7 linked regions of the Homo sapiens genome follow. The protein of the gene in region 5 purifies or fractionates together with the protein of the main gene of each other region. This does not show direct contact. Each region holds a gene or a part of one and is shown on either strand. Other genes may lie near its edges. The genes, in order: DPCD, WARS2, MGARP, OAT, MAN2B1, AGL and DTD1.

Evidence for each region.
Region 1: the proteins of MAN2B1 (region 5) and DPCD fractionate together in Homo sapiens (co-fractionation; one large-scale study listed by BioGRID). This does not show direct contact.
Region 2: the proteins of MAN2B1 (region 5) and WARS2 fractionate together in Homo sapiens (co-fractionation; one large-scale study listed by BioGRID). This does not show direct contact.
Region 3: the proteins of MAN2B1 (region 5) and MGARP fractionate together in Homo sapiens (co-fractionation; one large-scale study listed by BioGRID). This does not show direct contact.
Region 4: the proteins of MAN2B1 (region 5) and OAT fractionate together in Homo sapiens (co-fractionation; one large-scale study listed by BioGRID). This does not show direct contact.
Region 6: the proteins of MAN2B1 (region 5) and AGL fractionate together in Homo sapiens (co-fractionation; one large-scale study listed by BioGRID). This does not show direct contact.
Region 7: the proteins of MAN2B1 (region 5) and DTD1 fractionate together in Homo sapiens (co-fractionation; one large-scale study listed by BioGRID). This does not show direct contact.

What each region holds. Positions count from the first base shown.
Region 1 is NC_000010.11:101,607,742-101,610,162, reverse strand, and holds the end of DPCD (protein DPCD), read right to left. Parts: intron 1,329-2,421; coding exon 1,226-1,328; intron 797-1,225; coding exon 692-796; 3' UTR 501-691; downstream 1-500. UniProt on the Homo sapiens protein: May play a role in the formation or function of ciliated cells.
Region 2 is NC_000001.11:119,137,854-119,142,025, forward strand, and holds the start of WARS2 (tryptophan--tRNA ligase, mitochondrial isoform 1 precursor), read right to left. Parts: upstream 2,801-4,172; 5' UTR 2,792-2,800; coding exon 2,702-2,791; exon of another isoform or gene 2,415-2,701; intron 1-2,414. UniProt on the Homo sapiens protein: Catalyzes the attachment of tryptophan to tRNA(Trp) in a two-step reaction: tryptophan is first activated by ATP to form Trp-AMP and then transferred to the acceptor end of tRNA(Trp).
Region 3 is NC_000004.12:139,267,946-139,270,225, forward strand, and holds part of MGARP (protein MGARP), read right to left. Parts: intron 821-2,280; coding exon 727-820; intron 1-726. UniProt on the Homo sapiens protein: Plays a role in the trafficking of mitochondria along microtubules. Regulates the kinesin-mediated axonal transport of mitochondria to nerve terminals along microtubules during hypoxia.
Region 4 is NC_000010.11:124,412,424-124,415,923, forward strand, and holds part of OAT (ornithine aminotransferase, mitochondrial isoform 1 precursor), read right to left. Parts: intron 2,650-3,500; exon of another isoform or gene 2,530-2,649; intron 2,010-2,529; exon of another isoform or gene 1,695-2,009; intron 1-1,694. UniProt on the Homo sapiens protein: Catalyzes the reversible interconversion of L-ornithine and 2-oxoglutarate to L-glutamate semialdehyde and L-glutamate.
Region 5 is NC_000019.10:12,656,743-12,660,242, forward strand, and holds part of MAN2B1 (lysosomal alpha-mannosidase isoform 1 precursor), read right to left. Parts: intron 1,772-3,500; coding exon of another isoform or gene 1,769-1,771; coding exon 1,686-1,768; intron 1,603-1,685; coding exon 1,482-1,602; intron 1,400-1,481; coding exon 1,321-1,399; intron 814-1,320; coding exon 704-813; intron 315-703; coding exon 207-314; intron 1-206. UniProt on the Homo sapiens protein: Necessary for the catabolism of N-linked carbohydrates released during glycoprotein turnover. Cleaves all known types of alpha-mannosidic linkages.
Region 6 is NC_000001.11:99,916,361-99,919,860, reverse strand, and holds part of AGL (glycogen debranching enzyme), read right to left. Parts: intron 3,452-3,500; coding exon 3,364-3,451; intron 3,264-3,363; coding exon 3,130-3,263; intron 1-3,129. UniProt on the Homo sapiens protein: Multifunctional enzyme acting as 1,4-alpha-D-glucan:1,4-alpha-D-glucan 4-alpha-D-glycosyltransferase and amylo-1,6-glucosidase in glycogen degradation.
Region 7 is NC_000020.11:18,759,054-18,762,553, reverse strand, and holds part of DTD1 (D-aminoacyl-tRNA deacylase 1), read right to left. Parts: intron 1-3,500. UniProt on the Homo sapiens protein: Possible ATPase involved in DNA replication, may facilitate loading of CDC45 onto pre-replication complexes. An aminoacyl-tRNA editing enzyme that deacylates mischarged D-aminoacyl-tRNAs.

The sequences.
Region 1 (2,421 bases), on a different chromosome or scaffold from region 5:
CCTCAGCCTCCCGAGTAGCTGGAATTACAGGCATGCGCCACCATGGCCGGCTAATTTTTGTGTTTTTAGTAGAGACAGGGTTTCACCATGTTGGCCAGGCTGGTCTTGAACTATTGACCTCAGGTGAGCCGCCCGTCTCGTCCTCCCAAAGTGCTGGGATTAAGACGTGAGCCACTGCGCCTGGCCGGTTTCTGCATTTTTAAAACTTTTCCCTTGCCCACACATCTTCAGGAGTTTCCTCTGAGCCACTTCTGCAAGCTACGGTAGCACAGGGTCCCTCCAGCCTGGTCTTCCTCTGAGTTTGTGTAAACAGGTTGCAGGGAAAGGCCAGCCCTGCCCTGCTAGGGCCATGTGCTCCCACCCTATTCTCCCTTTTTGTGGAAAGCTTTATGTTGTAGGTCTCCGGGATAGAGAAAGGAATGTCATCACACCCTCCCGAGGGAGGCCAGTGGGGTCTGGGGCCAGGCAGCATACAGAGGGGAACAAGAGGGCAGTCCCTGTGCAGTAAGTAACTCAGAATGACTTTACTCAGGAAATATGACCATGACTCACTGGCTAGGAGTGCCCCATGCCCAGTTCTTAGAGACCCTTGATAGCTCCTAGAAGACAGGAGGCTGCCGTGGTCAAGAAGGGCCAAGCCTTGAAGTCTCACGGCACCCCCTGTGGTGGAGGTATAAGGCTCAGGGGCCAACTACTGGGTCTTGCAGTCCCCATCGTTGCTGTGGGCTGTCTTCACCTTCTTTAGTTCCTTCTGTAGCTCAGACTCGGCCACCACAACCTCCTTTGGCTTCTGGTACTGTGGATGCAGCCAGGAATAAGAAAATAATTCAGTCACTGTCCCATCTCCTTCCACACACACTTGGGGCCCCTTCTCCTTCTGATCCCCTTATTTGCACGAGAAAATTGAGGCCTGTAGGATTGAATGATTTGCTCAAGGTCATGTGCCTGAGTAGGAGCAGACCTTGGACCAGAAGAACCCAAGTTCAGCAATTTCCACCGCTTCCCTTTCACCCTCTACCCTCTTCTAGCTGTGAATTATATGGTCAGGCTCCTTCCTGAGCCCCCTCCCTGCTCTCCCCCATGCTGAATTAGAGATGCCTATTCTCCCACAAGCATACCCTAGGGCTTGGGGCTAGAACTGAGGACTCTTATGGGATGGGAAGTGGGCAGGGAAAGAGGAAGACTCTCCCTGATGCAGTGTCCAAGAAGTCTGGGTGAATCTTACAGAGATGATCAGGGTGCAGTTGGCGTGGGCAAAGCTCAGCAAGGCGTCATCCAGAGGTAGCTGGTGTCTATCTAGATCAGGAATGGAGAACTTCTTGTAGTACCTGTGGGGACACCGAGAGGCCATTGGGGCACTCGGCAAGGTGACCCAACAGCCAGGCGTCAGGCCCTCTGCTGCCTAGCTTCTACCTAGTTCTTCCACACCTTCCACACACGCAGAGAGGGAGAAGGGAAACCAGTTAGAACACCAGTATTTCAGAGCTCAGTGGCCCTGGAAAGCATAGAATGCAAGCCTTATGTCCAGTCCAGTGGCAGAAGAGCAGAACCTAGTTATAATTCTGTGATTAGACCAGGGGTTGTAGTGACTCACATCTCAGAGCTGGGTCTCCCAAAGACAGGCAGAAGAAGCCTGGAACACACAAATAGCTCAAGCAGCTTGGGACTCCTCTACCCCCAAAGCCTCATGGAGACACCAGAAAAATGGGACGTGTTCTAACAAAGGACAGAGTAAGGACATTCAGATCTGTCTCCCAAAGCTGGGGCCCTACTGTTACCATTTACATGGGAGGTCCACTGAAGGCCTCAACTACCTCTTCCTCTTTTGGGGCCTTTCAAGGCCTTGTTAGCCTGGCCTTGTAGGCCAGAGGGAAAAGTATATCTACTAGGAGAAATCTCTTTGAGAGGACGAACCATGTTACTCATCACGGAAGCTGGACCTCTGGACTACTTGGCTGGCCCCAAGTCCCTACTCCTCCATTTTTACATATCACACATGGTCCTTATCATCTGCAGGTGCCGGTTCAGCGATTAATGATGCCTTTTAATTAAAAAAAAAAATAGAACAGATGGCAACACCCAGTCTGTAATGTGTATAACTAGACTTTGCAGGAAATTTGACCCCCCTTACCTAAAAGGGAACTCGGGCTCAGAGAGATGAAATATCTTGCCTTGTTTCACGGCCAGTTGTCGGTAGGGATGGGAGTCAAGATTAGAGTAAGATTCCTTGTCCTTGGTCTGATCCTTACTACACCAAAGCACAATGAATGGCCTCCTCATCTCTAACAGTACACCAATTTGGCATTTTCCTTGGTGGAAATGTGGCTTAGGCTCTGGCCAGGGGCTGCTAGACCTGTCACTTGGGCAAGGCATCACTTTCTGCTGCAGAGGTTGTATGGGCTGTGAAGGGAAACACCTCAG
Region 2 (4,172 bases), on a different chromosome or scaffold from region 5:
TCTGAGATAAGCAAAGATGCCCTATGCCAACATTTTTACCCAAGATTTTGTTTTAAAAAAAGAAAACACTAAAAACCATTAAAACAACTTAGGAATCACAACACTTTATTAGTTAGAGTTTCTAACATAGCACTGTTATGGCTCATTCACTTTTGCTTTACACCTAAGGGAGTAAGTGCACAGCCAAGGCTAATAAAAACTAACTTGGCTATTTCTTGGTTTTTGATGGAACCATTCATATGATAAATATACATTTTTTCCCATTATACTATACTCTTGCAAAATAATTTTTTTCTACAAAGGTTATGAGATATCATAAAAATGTCTAATGCATCTGGTTTAAGAATCCAATGCCTCTTTCACATATTTCTGCATCTGTTCACAAAATCCCTTTGACTTCAAAGGAAGCTTTTCAAGAGAAAAAGAAGATACATACAGGAAAAGTGGCCATAAATTTTTAGTAGTCCTTTTCTAAGGCCATTTTAATAACAGCATTGTGGGACAAGTATCTTCCTCAGAATCCTAAAATATCACAAATGATATTAATGACTAAAGATCTGTATAAAGATTTATGATTTCAAAACGTTTTTCTGGTTATTAAAAAGTGTGTGTCTTCAATTTAGACATGTGAAAAATATGTAATGCTATAAAAGGAAACAAATAACTTTTAACCCACTATTTAGGAAGGCCAAAGCAAAATAAAAAAGTTAAAAATGTTTGTTCCCTTCCAGGCTTTTTTTCTATGTATACGTTTATATAAACACTTATATATAAACATAACATCGTAATAACACTATGAACACAATTTTGTATCTTTTCTCAGTCTTTCAAAAAACCACATTAATCTTTCAAACCATCATTTTCAATGACTGAAATTATATGTAGATTTATACTTTAAAAAAATACTCTCACATTTAATACTTATTCTACTCAAAGCTAAATTAAAGGTTTAGAAACATTCATCGGTACTGGAAATTCTACATCTTGAAACAATCTAGATTAATAATTAACTTTAATAGCCCTATTCATAAATGCCACTGAAACAATAGTAGAGGTTTAAGAAATTTTTTCTTTAGCATTTATAATGACTTAGTGTCTTAAACTTCCCTGGGCAGTCATTAGCAGGCTGCAGTTTGTCTTTTTTTTCTCTCTCTCTTTGATTCTCTATTCTCAAGACATCTTCAATTCTTTAGTTTGGAATAAGGGGAAGTTTGGGTCTACGGCTTAGCTACTTTGATAGCATAGGTGTTAATGTGCTATAAATTATAAATAATCATCTCATTCTAGTTCTGCAGAATCAAACCCTCAAATTTCAAGGAGAGGAATTTTTGATAAATTTATCTAATTTTGAATTGTCTTACCTAACATTGCTGCTGAAATTTAAGGTGACATTTGAATAGTTGTTTGCTGACAAGCAGCTTTCCGGTATATATTAATATATTAGCTTATAAGAATTTTGTGAGGCTCACATTAATAAAAAACGGAAGTTCAAAAAATTTATGACATGACTAGAAAAATAAGTTGAACTTAAATTTTGGTTTTCATAATTACTCTCATTGGCTTTGTTTTGGCTTCATAATCATGGAACTATAGATTTTCCAGAGGTTGAAAGAACATTAACGTGTCAATCAGTCCAGCTCTCTTCCTCCACTCAATATGAGCAAAAAAAGAAGAAAAGTCCCAGAGAGATTGTGACTTGTCACACAGCTGTCAAGTGGCAGACCAAACCCTTGACCTCTAGGCTACCTTCCTGTCTAGCGCTGTTTTCAACACAACAGTTACAATAGGTGCGACATCCTCACACCTACTCATTATGGCAATACATATGCAAATGATGCCGGGAAATTACCTAATAAAATCACATTCTCTCCTTTCTCTCTAGTTCCCAGAATATATCTCCCGTAGATAAAGTATGTCAAAGTGCTTGCCACTGAGACTGTACTTGGAAGACGTTTGGTAAAATCCTGAATAACTGAAAGGGTATCCCCTCCCCCTGACTTTTTTGCTATGAGGGTAAAATTCCAAATATTTAAGACAATTCCCAATAAGACCAGGCCGCGACATGGTCTCCGTACGACGAGATTAATGGTAACAGCAGTGTTGTCAAGCGCAGGACAGGACAAACTCTGTAGCAGCTTGCGGTCACTCTTTCACAGCCTGCTAGATAGAGCAGTGCTGTGGAGCCACCAGGAGCAACCAGAATGGAAGATGCACTGACACTTGCTCAAGTACCACACTGCCAACCTGCTGCCCCGACCCAAGCTGCCCAATGCCTAACAAAACTTCTCTACTCTCTCCGATAGCCCCTTAGCGTGTTGTTAGGGTAAGGAGGGTAAAAACAGTAATAAGACCACAAGAAGAGCAGTCTCTAAAACAACCCGTCTCTGAAAACATCACACGCGGGGTAGGCTCACCGCGTTGCCCGGCAACAGCGGCGGCGCTCCGCTCCCAGAACTGGAGGTGGCGGCAAGAGGTCAGAAAGCGGCGCGCTTTTTCCACCAAGAAACCTTTACGTCATCACGTATCCTTGCAACGTCACTACGCTCTGAGCAGGCCGACAGTCATAGACGAGTAGACCTTAGGCGAGGGAAGGCATGTACTTTCCCTAAGAAGCGGGAGGAGAGAAATAAATAGAGGGCAGTGGGATGAGAAGAACCTCGCGGGATGGGAAGCCGCGGAGGGAAGGGCCGTCTTTGGTTACCTGGAGAGCGGGAGCAGCTGCGGATCCCTTATGAAGTGCCCGGATGAAGCTCCAGCGCTCACGCGCTTTCCGCATTGAGTGCAGCGCCATCTTGAGAAGGGCGGAGCCGTCTTGTTTGGAATGACGTCTGTTCAGAGAGCCAATCCCAGTCTCGCGACTCCTGCTTGCTGGGCGCGGCTTGGGCCTCCAGGCTGCGCAGCGCAGCCGCTATCGGGCGGACTGCAGTTCTTGCCGAGCAGGTGGGGACAGGAGCGGGGTGGGGCTTTAGTGTTTTTCCCTGGATCCCTTGTCTGCTCAGCCTTCCTGGAAGGAGAATTTCCTTGGGGGTTATTAGTAGCAACGCTTTAGACTGGAAGAAAGTCAAGTAGGCTGCATTTCTGATCTTAGCTATGTGAAGGCAACCTTTAAAAAGTTTGTTTAGAAACTCCCAGTTCTCTTAGAGGGTAATATAAGTGGTCTTTTTAGACATGTGTGGCCTCATTTCCCTTTTTTTTCTTTGAGACAAGGTCTCACTCTCGCCCAGGCTGGAGTGCAATGGCGCGATCTCGGCTCACTGCAACCTCCACCTCCCAGACTCAAGCTATTCTCCTGCCTCAGCCTCCTGAGTAGCTGGGACCACAAGGGTGCGCCACCACGCCCGGCTAATTTTTGTATTTTGGTGGAGACAGGGTTTCACCATGTTGCCCAGGCTCTCTCAAACTCCTGAGCTCAAGCCAAGCCATCTGCCTCGGCCTCCTAAAGTGCTGGGATTACAGGCATGTGCCACCGCACTGGACTTATGTGGCCTTATTTCATTCGTCCTGTAAACTTTGTTGAACCCTACCGTAATGTGCTGGGCACTGAAGGTACAGAGAAAGACATATCTTGTCTTCAAGTTGTGTACAGTCTAATAGAGTAGCGGATAAATAAATGATGTACACTTAATAGGTGTTAAAGAAGCAAGCACCGCAAGTTTTAAGGAGGAGTGGTTATGACTGTGGTGTTTCAACCTAGTCTAGGGAAGGCTGCAGGAAGGTTATACCTGATGGAAGAAATTGTTTTGTTTGGGGTTATGAGAAAGTTTAATACAGTTTTTCTGCTTCTGTTAATTCACCTAAAAATCTCCCAGACAGATAACGAGTGTTTCAGTAAAAATATAACTGGAAGAAATTCATGACAATTCCTTTATGTGTTTTGTTTATAATTCATCCAGCTACTGAAAATTACCAAGGAGAGGTAGGAGATAAGAGATGCCTATAAAGGAGCTGAAATCTACCAGGGTAAGACAAAACAGTAAATTAAAACCATATAGGATAATCTTGTAGGTATACAAAGTACTGGTGAAGTTCAAGTATAATTGGTGTAATTTAGAAGTGAGCAGGAAAGGGATGAAGGCAAAAAAAAAACTAGGAAATCAAGTTATAGTCTTCAACAAAGCTGATCAGTTTGGTTTTGGCTGTTAAATTTGAGGTGCTTGTAGTACTTCCAAAAT
Region 3 (2,280 bases), on a different chromosome or scaffold from region 5:
TCTGCAAAACATAAAAAATAAATTTGCTGGGTGTAGCGGTGCATGCTTGTAGTCCTAGTTGCTTGAGAGGCTGTGATGGGAAGATTGCTGGAGCCCAGGAGTTCAAGGCTGCAGTAGGCTATGATTGCACCACTGCACTCCAGCCTGGTTGACAGAGGGAGAGCCCGTGGAGGGAAGGGGGAAAGGAAGGGGGAAGGAAGGGAGGGTGGGAAAAAGAAGTGTAGGAAGGAAGGAAAGAGTGAAAATATAAAGTTTCTGTTCCCATGGTCACCATTTTATCAACTGAAGGACTCATTATACACAACTGATTCTATTATGTCAAATGTACCTTGTTTGCACAAAGGCACACAGGTGGTCTTAGCCAAAACTGAAAGATAATTTGTTATATTATTATTTTTAGATAATGAGAAAAATGAAAGCTCATGCCTGCATGGGTGGATGCCTGAGCAGGGGAAAATAATATTACCACACAAAGGAGTCAAAAGTCACTGGTCAGCAATATAAATGTAAAACATTCATTTGTCAAATGCATTCATCCAAAAGGTGTAACAGTGTTCTTCAGGTTTCAGTTGAACTTTTCCTTTCTAAATGAACTTATACCTAGAGTCATTCTGGATTAAGCTAGGAAAGAAGCCAAAAGCAAATAGTGTTCATTGCTAGACTAAGTGGATGGAAATTAGTGCCTCAAAAAATAAATAAAAATAAAAAATTAAGAAATTCATTTACCTTGAAATGGATGTATCTCTGCTTTTGTTTTTTCTTTCAAATTTGTTTTATGTTCTGTGTGTTTGGCTTGGTCTGATGTGACTGTCTTGTAAGCCTGAAAGTAAATGTATGCTTAGGTTTATTTCTTGAGCTTTAAGATTTGTCACGCCACATCCAAAGGTACACTCAAGTCTCCCTGTAATCACCATTAGAAGTTTAAACCATAATCCCAGTGTAGCAAAGAAGAGAAATCAGTGCACACCACTTACTCTTTTACTTCCCTTTTGGAAATCTTTGTTATTAAATAGAATGCTTTAAAAAGGAAGAAAGGTGAGACAGGGGATGAGGAGAGAAAAACTACCTATTGGGTACCATACTTATTACCTGGGTGACAAATCAATCTATACATCAAACCCCCATGACACATAATTTACCTATTAACAAACCTGCACATGTACACCTTAACCTAAAATAAAACTTTTTAAAAAGGGAAGGAAATAGATGCACTATCTTAGCCAAAGATAACTAAAAACAAGGAAGAAAAAAATGAATTATGCTACAACCAGAATATCCTGACAGGCATATACAAATATTTTCTAGCATTTATCCTTGAGAAATGGAAATCTAGGTTCACATGAAAACCTGTACACAAATGTTCATGGTACCTTTATTTGTAATAGTCAAAAACTGGAATCAGGCCGGGTGCGGTGGCTCATGCCTGTAATCCCAGCACTTTGGGAGGCTGAGGTGGGTGGATCACCTGAAGTCAGGAGTTCGAGACCAGTCTGGCCAACATGGTGAAACCCCATCTCTACTAAAAATACAAAAACAGCCAGGCATGGTGGTGGTGCTCGCCTGTAGCCCTAGCTACTCAGAAGGCTGAGGTGGGAGAATTGCTTGAACCCAGGAGGTGGAGGTTGCAGTGAGCCGAGATCATGCCATTGCACTCCACCCTGGGCGACAGAGCAAGACTCCATCTCAAAAAAAAAAAAAAAAAGAAAAAAGAAAGAAAGAAACAGTATTGGGAAGAAAGCTATTTTAATCACAGACAAAATGTGCAGGCTTCCTTTCATTTTATATTTAAGTAGTCTTCTTTGGCCTGTATTCATATTAGAAAATGATATAAAAAATGAAAATCTCATTATTCAGTTACTATTGTTTGTATTAATTTAGCTTTTAAGAAAATGTTGGTAGTGGTTTAACTTTTAATGGTAAGATGATAGATTTCTAAAATTTATTTATATATAGTGTCTTCTAAATTTTTAACCATCAGAAACCAAGTACCTTATTTAAAAATTGTACTACTTAATTACAAACAATTTTACAGTGTAAAAATTATGCTGTGAAAATAGAATGTCTGTAATGTCGGGGCCGGGTGCAATGGTCCACACCTGTAATCCCAGCACTTTGGGAGGCTGAGGCCAGCGGATCACCTGAGGTCGGGAGTTTGAGACCAGCCTGACCAACATGAGAAATCTGGTCTCTACTAAAAATACAAAATTAGCCGGGCGTGGTGGCGCATGCCTGTAATCCCAGCTACTCGGGAGGCTGAGGCAGGAGAATCACTTGAACCCT
Region 4 (3,500 bases), on a different chromosome or scaffold from region 5:
TTGCTTGAGCCCGGAAGTTGAGGCTGCAGTGAGCTGAGATTGTGCCACTGTACTCCAACCTGGGAGACAAAGAAAGGCCCAGTCTCAAGAAAAAAAAAATGGCCAGGCGTGATAGCTCACATCTGTAATTCCAGCACCTTGGGAGGCCAAGATGGGAGGATCGCTTGAGCCGAGGAGTTAAAGACCAGCCTAGGCAACATAGTCTCTATAAAAGAAAAAAAAAGAGTGAGAATCTTGAGTCAGGTGTGGTGGTTTGTGCCTGTAGCCCCCAGCTGCTCAGGAGGCTGAGGCGGGAGGATCACTTGAGCCCAAGAGTTTGAGGCCAGCCTGGGCAACAGAGTGATACCCTGTCAATCAGGCAATCAATCAACCAACCAATCAATAAGAGTAAGACTCTTTCCAGAGCTAATGCACTGTGTGTTGACTGAGTACCTGCTAAACACTAAGTATTTGTTAAGCACCTACCACAGTCCGATACCATCAGGCACAATGCTATGAGACAGCTACAACTGTAGGGCAGAGACCAGAGGCAGGGAGACCAAATCAGAGAAGACTGCCAGAGACTAGGCATGGGGCAGGAGACAGAGGAACTGTCCATCCCTCTGGGCTCAAGCAGTCCGCCCACCACGGCCTCCCAAAGTTTTCGAATTAAAGGTGTGAGCCACTGTGCCCAGCCTAAAATCTTTTATTTAGCCACAAATATCTAAAACTTCTGTAGGTCAAATTTATCATAAACAAAGGTGAAAGGCAAAAAGACTAGGAAAAAAATGTTAACTTATAATAGCTTTAAAGTGTTCACAGCAAGTTGAATTAGACCAACATATACATACATACATAAATACATACACACACACACACACACACACACACACACACACACACACACATATATGAGATTCCCAAACAAAACAATCTATTCTGCTAGGATGGTTGTTTCTACAAAACTTATCCTGAAAAATTGTAGCATAAAAGATATTGTTGACCAGGTGCGGTGACTCATGCCTATAATCCCAGCACTTTGGGTGGCAGAGGCAGGCGATCACCTGAATCGGGAGTTCGAGACCAGCCTGACCAACATGGAGAAACCCCGTCTCTACTGAAAATACAAAATTAGCCAGGCGTGGTGGTGCATGCCTGTAATCCCAGCGACTCAGGAGGCTAAGGCAGGAGAATCGCTTGAACTTGGGAGGACGAGGCTGCAGTGAGCCAAGACTGCGCATTGCACTCCAGCCTGAGCAACAAGAGTGAAACTCCGTCTCAAAAAACAAACAAACAAACGAAAAAGCTATTGTTAGCAAAAGGTAACTGAGAAACTAGAGAGAGTCAAACTACAAACTACAATCCGTTACTTGTATGAGTGTTAAAGTCTAAACATCACTGAGCAGGCTGGTGTTTACCCTGCCGCCCCATCACATAAGTCAGAGCCATAGCTACTCTCCCCAGTCACCCCCAGCCCTAAAACTAGCCCCTCCACAAGGCTTCACACACCTCTTTGTACCCAATTTACCATTAAGCATCCTGATAAGCCATGAAGTAAAAACTAAGCTATGAAAGAAACTAATAATTAAAAGGAAATTAGAGCATGTGCATAGGAATCACCTCTGGAAGGAAAAAAAAAAAAAAAGCTTAAAGATAAATTCATGATTAGGAGAAAGTTGCCAAAAACTAGGCATACTTATTCCATCTATACTTACTTTCTAAAAGACTAGTTAATTCATGTTTCAACAGAAGTCTACCAATGACAAGTCAAACCATGTATAATCTCACAGCCACTCTTGATTCGAGCTGCCAAATTAGCAAAACATAATACTTGGAGTTTGGCTTACTTCCCTTTAAACTTGGCACTACCCAGTAAATCCAGTATGTTCAGGAATTTGCAATTGCTAAACAAAATCCAGTACTCCGGTTTGCCAAAGACTCACTGACTATTTTTTCTTCCCACGGTTCAGTCTAGAATACAGATTTTTAACCCAAGATCCAGGGACAGTCTGCAGAGAGTCCAAAATCTCCTGAAATAAAATGCAGAATTACATGCAGACGTATATTTTTCCAAGAAGAAGGTCCATAACTTTCATCAGACTTTATCTCAAAGGGGTGGGTACCAACAATCAAAACAAAAGTGATGTAAGAATCATCCAACTGGAGGTAGCTGCTAGCAAAAATGTCTAACTGTACTATATGTAACTTCCCCAAAATACTACTGCTAAGTCTAAAACACTCATGTATGATTTCTTTCTTGGACTCTTTATGCTTTACTCAGTATGAATAAATTGTTTGATCAACTAAAAAATTAGAACATTAATTTTTGCCTATCAAATTAGCAGTAAAACACTCAGGCAATACTTAGTGGTGCTCTAAACCGTAACAACTTTCTAGGGCCAGGCAAGGTGGCTCACGCCTATAATCCCAGCGCTTTGGGAGGCCAAGGCAGATCACTTGAGCCCAGGAGTTAAAGATCAACCTGGGCAACATAGGGAGACCCCATCTCTATAAAAAATATGAATATTAGCCAGGTGTGGCGATGCGTACCTGTAGTATCTGGTACTTAGGAGACTAAGACTAAGGTGGAAAGATCTCTTGAGCCCTGAGTTCTGGGCTGCAGTGAGCCACGATCTGTGCCACCAGCACTCCAGCCTGGGCTACAAAGCGCTAAAAAAAAAAAAAAAAAAAAAAAAAAAAAAAAAAAAAGGAATATCAGAGATTATCTAAATTCAACATTCTTATTTTATATAAAAGTTATCTGCACAGCTAATTTCCAACAGAAATGGGATGAAAAATTCATTTACCTGTTAAGTTTAGGCAGTTTTATTAAAGAATAACTGGGGACAAAATAATATCATTCAAAACATTACTAATACTCATTCTTAAGGTTTTTGTTTCTTTTCACTTACAGATGGAGTCTCAGCTATGTTGCCCAGGTTGGCCTCGAACACCTGGGCTCAAGGGATCCTTCTGCCTCAGCCTCAGGAAGAGGTGGGACTACAGGCACACACCCCTGAGTCAGCTATTCTTAAGGTTTTTAAGATGAATTCTGGATATTTAATTCAACTGGGAAAGGTCAGAAACTGGATGAGCCATGATGTATCAAAATCCTGTAAACGCATTTCTATTAAAGAACCTTCTGTGTTCAAGTTACTGTGCTTGGCACTGTATGAGAAATCTTAGAGCAGAATTAAGATGGACTTAAAAATAGCCAACATCAATAACAGCCTCTTCCAAAAAGGTTTCAAAACCGGGAGAATCAAGCGGAAAATCCCGAGTTTGGAGACCGGGATTTTAAATTCTGTCTGTGGTTCTGAAGAGTAACTCTGGGTGATTCTGTCAATCTTTCTGAGCTTCAGTCTCCCCATTTGTAAAAGGAGGTTGAAGTGTCACTGAGGATGAAATGGGTTAATGTTACTGTGCCAAATCCAGCACAAAATGGCCACTCAGTTCCCTTTTGCCCTTAAAACTAGCCAGTTTCTGAAATATCAGAATCAACAGTGCCATGATTTATTTTT
Region 5 (3,500 bases):
ACCCACTTTGCACAGAAACACCCCTGGCTGGTCCTAGTGTGGTCACGGCACTTAAGGCCAAGCCCCCTCGAGATGCGTTGTTCTCTCTGCTGACCCAGCTTCGCAGCCCACGTAATTTCACTCCTGTATAGTCCTCCAAAAACATTTTCCAACTACCCCCTCTAAAGCCCATCTGCCCTAGATCCACCCCTCCCGTCCCGGCTCACGCGCGCCGCCGTCTGGCTGAGCGGGCAGATGCTGATGTTTAGCTGTTGGCAAAAGGTGAAGTGATCTTTGAAGCCTCTGAGCCGCGCCAGCGCGTTGCTCAGAAGAACCTGCGGAAGAGCGCAAAGGGACCGGTGGGTTCAGGACGCCAGGCCTGACTCCTCCCCTCTCCTCAGGCCCCGCCCCGTTCCGGTCTCTGTCCCGCCTCCCTCAAGAGTCGCCCCAAAACCCCTTCTAGCCCCACCCTGCTGCCCTTGACTATACCCCATAGCTGTCTCCGCCTCCTCTTGCCCACGCCCCGCCTCCTTCCCCCCTCCAAAGCCCCGCCCCGTTCCTGTATCTTTCCCCGCCTCCTACAAGCCCCGCCCCCACGAGCCCTTGTAGCCCCGCCACAGGGCTCTCGGCTACGCCTCACACCTGTCTCTGTCCCCTTTCCCAGGCCCTGGCCCCGCCCCTTCCTGTCTCCACCCCCGTGTCTCCCAAGTCTCGCCCCGCGCACCTCGCAAGGCCCCCAGCCTGCCGCAAGCTGGCGCGCGTAGTCGTTGGCCACGTGCTGGCGGGAGGTGCCGCTGACGGCGTCGTGATGCTGGAGCACAGCCATCGCCTCATCTGCTCATAGACAATGAGTCCGGTGAGGTTCTGTGGGACTCAGCTGAGACCCCAAGGGGAAGCGAAAGGTCCGGTGCTGGCGGGCAGGATTCTTAGAGGCTTTAAGAAGGAACTCGAGGACGGCTGGGGGCGGTGGCTCACGCCTGTAATCCCAGCACTTTGAGAGACCGAGGCGGGCGGATCACGAGGTCAGATCGAGACCATCCTGGCTAACATGGTGAAACCCCGTCTCTACTAAAAATACAAAAAATTAGCCGGGCGTGGTGGTGGGCGCCTGTAGTCCCAGCTACTCGGGAGGCTGAGTCAGGAGAATGGCGTGAACACGGGAGGTGGAGCTTGCAGTGAGCCGAGATCGCACCACTGCACTCCAGCCTGGGAGACAAATCGAGACTCCGTCTCAAAAAAAAAAAAAAAAAAAAAAAAAAAGAAGAAACTCGAGGGGGGCGGCCTAGGGGTGGTTTCCAACTTCAGCCGCAAACCTCTTCCCCTCTTGGGCCCGACACTTACTGAGGGGTGCACTGTCTCCGGAGCCATAGGGTCCCACGTTGGCCGCCAGGCCCACCAGCGCCTCCAGCTGGTTGCACACCTGGAGGCAGAGGGGTATGTTGGGGCGCCCAGCCTGTCGGGCCTCGGGGCTGCATGCCCCCTCTAGCCCGGCTCCTACCCACCTGCAGGAAGTTGTAGCTGAGGCGCTCGTAGCGTTTGAGGGCCGGCCGACTGGAAAAGTAACCGGTCCAGAACTGGTGGGGGCCATCCGCGTAAGGGAAGAAGTCGTCATGTTTCACTGACCTACAGCGGCAGGGGCATTGAGGGCAGGGTCATGACCCACGGGGCATGCCAACCCCCCCAAGCTCCCCAGTTTCCCCAAATACCAGGTGAGGTTGGCCTTGTTCAGCTCCCAGAGGTAACAAGCGGGGGTGGAGTAGAGAACATGGACACTGCTTCCTTTTGCCTGCTGCTGGGGGAGGCGACGGAGTGAGCCCTCGGGAGTCCGCACCTTCCTGGGGGCCCACACTTCCACACATGTGTGCACATTCATGCATCCCATAGGTTCAGTTTCTCTAAATACATATTTGGCGTGCAAGCCAATGGTTGGGTGTGAAAATGAATTTTGGCTGAAGTCAAACATGACCACTAGCCTTTTTTAAAAGGATTTCAGAGATGCAAGAATAAACCTGAAATTTTACTAAACTTTTACAATAATTCCAACTTTATTATTAAAAACTTTTGTGGAAAAACTAAGTGTGACATTATAGGGCAGGAATAATCGTTTTGCAGGACTGTCAGATTGTTACCAAAAAACACAACTTTTTTTTTTTGGGACGGAGTCTTACTTTGTTGCCCAGGCTGTAGTGCAGTGGCTCAATCTCAGCTCACTGCAAGCTCCACCTCTTGGGTTCACGCCATTCTCCAGCCTCAGCCTCATGAGTACCTGGGACTACAGGTGCCCGCCACCACACCCGGCTAATTTTTTGCATTTTTTAGTAGAGACGGAGTTTCACCGTGTTAGCCAGGATGGTCTCGATCTCCTGACCTCATGATCCGCCCGCCTCAGCCTCCCAAAGTGCTGGGATTACAGGCATGAGCCACCGTGCCCGGCCTAGACACAATTTTTATAATGAATGGAGGTGCACTTTCACCTGAGCAAGGTGGAGGAACAAGAAAGTGACCTATGTGAGGAAAAGGATGTTTGTTTTGCACGAGCTGTGTCCCCCAATGTACACAGTAGGTGCTCAATAAACTTTTTTTTTTTTTTTTTTTTTTGAGACTGAGTCTGACTCTGTCGCCCAAGCTGGAGTGCAGTGGCACGATCTCAGCTGGCTGCAAACTCCGCCTCCCAGGTTCCAGCGATTCTCCTGCCTCAGCCTGCCGAGTAGCTGGTCTTACAGATGAGTGCCATCACGCCCACCTAATTTGTAGTATTTTTAGTAGAGACAAGGTTTCACCATGTTGGCCAGGCTGGTCTCCAACTCCTGTCTTCAAGTGATCCGCCCACCTCAGATTACAATCCCAACACTTTGGGAGGCCAAGGCGGACGGATCACCTGAGGTCAGGAGTTTTGAGACCAGCCTGGCCAACATAGTGAAACCCTGCCTCTACTAAAAATACAAAAATTAGCCAGGGTTGGTGGCACATGCCTGTAGTCCCAGCTACTTGGGAGGCTGAGGCAGGAGAATCACTAGAACCCAGGAGGCAGAGGTTGCCATGAGGCAAGATCATGCCACTGCACTCCAGCCTGGGTGACAAAGCAAGACTCTTGTCTCAATAAATAAATAAATAAATAAAATTTTAAAAAGAAAAAATAAATAAAAATAAATGACATAAAAGAGCTGTTTTGGTGAAATAGCAGTGCTGGGAGCGAGTGGAAGGTGGGAATGGAGATTGCACCGTAGTGAGGACAAGATTGATGGGAAGGGGTGTCTGAGATGGGAGAGGGGAGACAAGTTTCTGTGCTGATGAGAGTGACTGACTGTGCACACAGCCACAGCCACAGGCCACTTAGTGCAAAACACTAACACATCTGTGTTGGGTAAAATGATAACTGCCCAAAAGTGTCCATGTCCTGATCCCCAGAACCTATTACCACATTAGATTACATGGCAAAAGGGGAATTAAGGTTGCAGATGGAATTGAGGTTGTTCATCAGCCAAACTTAAAGTAGGGAAATTAGGCCACACAGTGGCTCA
Region 6 (3,500 bases), on a different chromosome or scaffold from region 5:
AGTTAGAATCCAAGTGGTGCCAGGAGGGCTCCACACATAGAGGTGGCTTACTGTGGGGTAGCAGGCCCAAGCTGGGTGAGCAGACTCTATGTGGTGGTGATGGCCCAATGTGGGAAGTAGGTTATTCATTGTTGGAAAAGGGAATTACAAATATAGAAAGGGAGAAAAATAGAATTAAACACTGAGAAATAGCTTGGAACTGGTGTAAACTCAGGTTTTCAACACACATAGACAGGATACATTGAGATGAAGATAAGTGTGTATGTATTTACTTATGTTTATGTATTATTATATATTCCCTAGCCCTATCTACTGGGGGTCATAGTAATAATAAATACACCATGTGCTCAGATCTGGCTTCTAAATAACATTTTTCACTATAAAGAACAAGGGATCCTTAGAGAATTGCCCAATTCCAGGCTGGGGTAGTGAAAGTGAAAGATGAGTGTTGAAAACCTTGCTGGGCCAGAAAGCAAGGAAGGACTTCCATATGTGACAAACAGGAAGTAGTATGGACAGAATTTCCCTCCTGTCTGATACAACTGAAGAACTGGACATTAAGACATTAGACATTAGGCAACAAATAGCGATCCTTGAAGGATGAGAAACAAATGAAGCAAACCCTATGATTACCATACCTTACTGCCTTGAGAGTTTCCAGGATTTGGCACAGAGAGGGGGAACACAGGTGGAGCCTGGCAGACTTCCTTGAGTTGAACTGAGAATCCAGGAACACTACAAAGCAGCTACAATTTGCAGGATAGAGTACTAGAGAGGAAGGAGCTGTACAAAGAGAGAACTCTGAAGATATGCAGAGGGTCCCACTCAAGTATCTGTAGTGTACCAACCAGCAAATTCACAAGAGGAAACTACCAAAGAACAAGGAAAGAACCATCCAAAAGGATGAGAAGAAGCAGTATGTGGCACTCATACAGCGTCAGGAACACTTGCTTGTTCCCACCAGCCAGATTTGAAAACGTCATAATTTTCGAAATACAGGGTAGGGAACACAGATGGGTCTTGATTCACTAATGGAGAATAATTATTCCTAGACCAAATGCTATTCTGGTCAGGTCTAACAAGCTTAAAATCAAGACCAGAAAGGATCAAACTGTTTCCAAGTAATTTCACTGCATTCCAAAACAAAGCTCAAAAACATTTACAGAAACACCAAAAATCTAGCACCCAACAAGGTAAAATTCACATCTGGTATCTAATAAAAAATAACCAGGCAAATGGCTGGGTGTGGTGGCTCATGCCTGTAATCTCAGCACTTCAGGAGGCCGAGGTTGGGGGACTGCTTGAGCCTAGGAGTTCGAGACCAGCCTGGGCAAGATAGCAAGACCCCTGTCGCTCCAAAAATCAAAAAACAAAAACTACCAAGCAAAGAAGCAGGGTGATATGACCCAAAATAAAGAGAACAATCACAAGCAAAAGCAACCCAGAAATGAATTAGCAGACAAGGATATTAAAAGAGTCACTGTAATCATATTCCACATGTTCAAAACATTAAGCAGAGACATGGAAGATATAAAAACAGCCCAGATAAAACTTTGAGAAATGAAAACTACAACGTTGAAATGAAAAACACCAGCATGGATGTGATGGTAGGTTAGACATAAAAATGATGCAGATTTCTTATCAAAACAATGTAACCACCTTAAAGTATGAAAGAGAAAAAAGCTTAACTTTGAATTCTATACATAGTGAAAATATCTTTAAAATAAAGGCAAAACACAGATGTTTTACACTTATAAGAATTGAAAGAATTCATCATGAGGAGGCAAACACTACAAGACATGATGGAGAAAGTCCTTCGGGTAGAAGGAAAATGATACAAGATGGAGATACAGAACATCACAAACATATGAAGAGCACTGAAAATGGCAACTATAAGAGTAATTAGACTTTTTAATATATTATTTAAAGATCATTAAAACATAACTGACTGCCTAAACAAATGTAGTAACCATGTAGTGTGGGGGGTAATAACAGGTAAAAGCAAAATGGATGATGATGATAGCACACAGGCCGGGAGGGGAAAAATAAAACTATACTATTTTAAGGATCTTTATACCTTACTTGAAGTGGTATATCACTGGAAGGTAAACTATAAAGACATATACTATAAACCTAAAGCAGCCATTTTAAATAAACAAGAATTACATCTAATTAGCCAACAAAGGAGATTAAAATGAAATAATAAATATTCAATGCAAAAGAAGCACAAAAAGAGGAAAAAGCTAACAAAGAACAGACAGAATAAACAGACAACAAACATTTAAATTTCACAATTTCAGACCTTAAGTGTAAATGGTCTAAATATTCCAAAAGCAGAAACTGTTGTGCTACACGAGAGCAAGGCCCGATTACATGCTACTATGTACAAGAAAGCCACTTTAAATACAAAGACATAAATAGCTTAAAAGGATGGTAAAATCTGTACCATGGTGACAACCAAACAAAACAGACCAGGAGTGGCTCTATTAATATGAAACACGCAGAAGTCCCTTATGTGCTTGTAAGAAAGGAGATAAAATTTGTGCTGTTTATTCATTATCTGAGGAATAGAATATAGATATACTTAGGTATAATCTAAAATTTGAGGAATTAAGATACACTCTGAATTTATACTCTTATAAAGATACGTAACTCTGACACTGTCTATTTGCTAATAATTAGGACAAGGAAGTGAAAAATGTTTTTTGAACTAACAGGCAAAAGACCAGTTCTGATATTTTAACTATAATGAAAGCATTTCTGAAAACTATTTCTTGATATATCTTTAAATCAATTAACTCAAAAGGCCCAGGCTGAGTACCTTCAGTTTTTATATTTATCCTGTGCTAACCACATCCAAAAACATCAGGGAAATTTTAAAAATCAAAGACTATTCCACATGTATAAATCGCACAATATCAAGACCTCAACTTAAAATAAATAACAACCCAAAATAAGAGAAAGTGAAAATTATATAACAGAATTTGTCATGTTAAAGAATAAAGGCTTCACTTTTCATTGGGATACCTAGGGCATACAGAAATCAATTCTAAGAAACTGTAATTTACCTAATAGCTAATAAACTGACTAAACACTAGTTATGGAAATTACATGCTCCTGATGACTTACCTCTCAAGATGAACATAATGTCGGGAAAGAACATTTTTAACCAAAACTATAGTCTTTGCAGTAGTCTCCGGGCCCATCAATCTGGAAAAATATAATTTTGCACGAAGAAAATACCCAATAGGCCACAGCCACTCCTAAAAAAGATTATTTAAAAGACAAAAAAAACCATAAATACCTAAAAATTACTTGAAAAATAATTTAAACTGAAACTCAGAAGATAAATGAAATTCTTACAGGTCCTTGGTGATAATTGAAACCTTTAGCAAGATTGTAGTTGTCATTGTCTAATGCATTGTCATAAATTCCACAGTAAACCATATCACTGCAAAATGATTGAAATTTAAGTTAAATAAAAGATGATCAGATATTAT
Region 7 (3,500 bases), on a different chromosome or scaffold from region 5:
AACAATGAGGGAGGTAGAGGGATGGGAGCTTAAGGAAATGCAGGGACAGGGAGGGAATAAACTAAATGCTTAGTCTTGCGACATTTTAAATACTACTCAAAGGATGCCTGGCTGTTTGGTACAGAAGTCCAAGTGTCTCAGGGTTTCCTTTTGTAATTCCGAGGCTATAACAAAAACCAGCTAGTATTGCCGAGATCTATGATGCATGCATTTGTCATCCAAAAGTTAAACTAAAGCTAAAGCCTAACAGAAGAGTTTCTATTCCCTCAGATCTAGATTCTAATTGGATGGACTTCAGTAAAAGCAAAAGATTTCAATACGACTCAATATGCCATGGCAGTGCCACCTCCATGGATGTGCTTCCTGATACACTCAGTGCAGGCCACCTTCTTAAGAAAGGGTTGTATCACAAGCAGATGCTTCCATAGACTAACAGCCCTCATTCCCCTGCCCAGCTGGATAGCGAAGTCCCTGTGCACACATGAGAAAGGCAAGCTGGAACCACAGCTAGCCCATGCTCTGCAGCTCTGTCTGCCACCATATCCCCAAGGGCTACCCTCGTACACCCAAACCCACCTGTAAGAGTCCTGCACACCTTCCTAAGAGTTTTCTAAAAGACAACCAGTGGGTGGAGAACAGACAACATCATTCCTGGGGACCATATTACTTTCAGTTTTTAGCTATTAGAAACAACCCATTTGTTCTTACATTGTGTGGATGATGTTAACCCAAGTTACGGACCTGGGGACTATTCATACTTGTTTCCCTACCTTCAATACCAATAACTGAAATACTGTAATTGTTCCCCACATTGACCTTTGAGAAACTCCATCTTCTTGGCACAGATTAAAATCTTTGTTTTTGAACTTAAGATGAGCTTTGGAATCCTGGTTGAACGTATTTTTCTTTTACATTTACTTCAATTAAATATTCTACAATATTCTACATTTTTAATGCATTGGGATAATTTAGTCTTCAAATATTTGATGTGCAGATGGAAATTATAAAGCTCACAGTAAAAGAATGACCTAGAGAAATGTTAAAGATATTCTGTTAAAAGATAAAAAACAGGTGACACTATATATATACAGTATGTCTCCAACTTTGTAAAGTTAGAGAAACAGATGTAGAATTACCTGTTTAGAAAAAGTATTCCAAAGCATTATGTTAATAATAATTATCAGAGGTGGAGCCAAGATGGCCAAATAGGAACAGCTCCAGTCTACACCTCCCAGTGTGAGCCACGCAGAAGACGAATGATTTCTGCATTTCCAACTCAGGTACAGGGTTCATCTCACTGGGGATTGCTGGACAGTGGATGCAGGACAGTAGCTGCAGCACACCGAGCAGGGCGAGGCATCGCCTCGCCCGGGAAGCGCAAGGGGCCAGGGAATTCCCTTTCCTAGCCAAGGAAAGGGGTGATAGACAGCACCTGGAAAATCGGGTCACTCCCACCCTAATAATGCGCTTTTGCAATGGTCTTAGCAAACGGCACACCAGGAGATTATATCCCGCGCATGGCTCTGAGGGTCCTACGCCCACAGAGCCTCGCTCATTGCTAGCACAGCAGTCTGAGATCAAATTGCAAGGTGGCAGCAAGGCTGGGGGAGGGGCGCCCACCATTGCCGAGGCTTGAGTAGGCAAACAAAGCGGCCGGGAAGCTCGAACTGGGTGGAGCCCACCGCAGCTCAAGGAGGCCTGCCTGCCTCTGTAGACTCCACCTCTGGGGACAGGGCACAGACAAACAAAAGGCAGCAGAAACCTCTGCAGACTTAAATGTCCCTGTCTGACAGCTTTGAAGAGAGTAGTGGTTCTCCCAGCATGCAGCTTGAGATCTGAGAACAGACAGACTGCCTCCTCAAGTGGGTCCCTGACCCCTGAGTAGCCTAACTGGGAGGCACCGCACTGTAGGGGCAGACTAACACCTCACACGGCCGGGTACTCCTCTGAGACAAAACTTCCAGAGGAACGATCAGGCAGCAACATTTGCTGTTCACCAATATCCACTGTTCTGCAGCCTCCACTGCTGATAGCCAGGCAAACAGGGTCTGGAGTGGACCTCCAGCAAACTCCAACAGACCTGCAGCTGAGGGTCCTGACTATTAGAAGGAAAACAAACAAACAGAAAGGACATCCACACCAAAACCCTATCTGTACGTCACCATCATCAAAGACCAAAGGTAGATAAAACCATAAAGATGAGGAAAACACAGAGTAGAAAAACTTAAAATTCTAAAAATCAGAGCACCTCTCCTCCTCCAAAAGAATGCAGCTCCTCACCAGCAATGGAACAAAGCTGGACAGAGAATGACTTTGACGAGTTGAGAGAAGAAGGCTTCAGATGATCAAACCACTCCGAGCTAAAGGAGGAAGTTCGAACCCATGGCAAAGAAGATAAAAACCTTGAAAAAAGATTAGACGAATGGCTAACTAGAATAACCAATGCAGAGAAGTCCTTAAAGGACCTGATGGAGCTGAAAACCACGACACGAGAACTATGTGACGAACGCATAAGCCTCAATAGCCAATTCGATCAACTGGAAGAAAGGGTATCAGTGATGGAAGATCAAATGAATGAAATGAAGCGAGAAGAGAAGTTTAGAGAAAAAAGAATAAAAAGAAACGAACAAAACCTCCAAGAAATATGGGACTATGTGAAAAGACCAAATCTACATCTGATTGGTGTACCTGAAAGTGACGGGGAGAATGGAACCAAGTTGGAAAACATGCTGCAGGATATTATCCAGGAGAACTTCCCCAATCTAGCAAGGCAGGCCAACATTCACATTCAGGAAATACAGAGAACGCCACAAAGATACTGCTCGAGAAGAGCAACTCCAAGACGCATAATTGTCAGATTCACCAAAGTTGAAATGAAGGAAAAAATGTTAAGGGCAGCCAGAGAGAAAGGTTGGGTTACCCACAAAGGGAAGCCCATCAGACTAACAGCGGATCTCTCGGCAGAAACTCTACAAGCTAGAAGAGAGTGGGGGCCAATATTCAACATTCTTAAAGAAAAGAATTTTCAACTCAGAATTTCATATCCAGCCAAACTAAGCTTCCTAAGTGAAGGAGAAATAAAATACTTTACAGACAAGCAAATGCTGAGAGATTGGTCACCACCAGGCCTGCCCTAAAAGAGCTCCTGAAGGAAGCACTAAACATGGAAAGGAACAAAGGTACCAGCCACTGCAAAAACATGCCAAATTGTAAAGACCATCGAGGCTAGGAAGAAACTGCATCAACTAACGAGCAAAATAACCAGCTAACATCATAATGACAGGATCAAATTCACACATAACAATATTAACGTTAAATGTGAATGGGCTAAATGCTCCAATTCAAAGACACAGACTGGCAAATCGGATAAAGAGTCAAGACCCATCAGTGTGCTGTATTCAGGAAACCCATCTCACGTGCAGAGACACACATATGCTCAAAATAAAAGGATGGAGGAAGATCTACCAAGCAAATGAAAAAACAAAAAAAGGCAGGGGTTG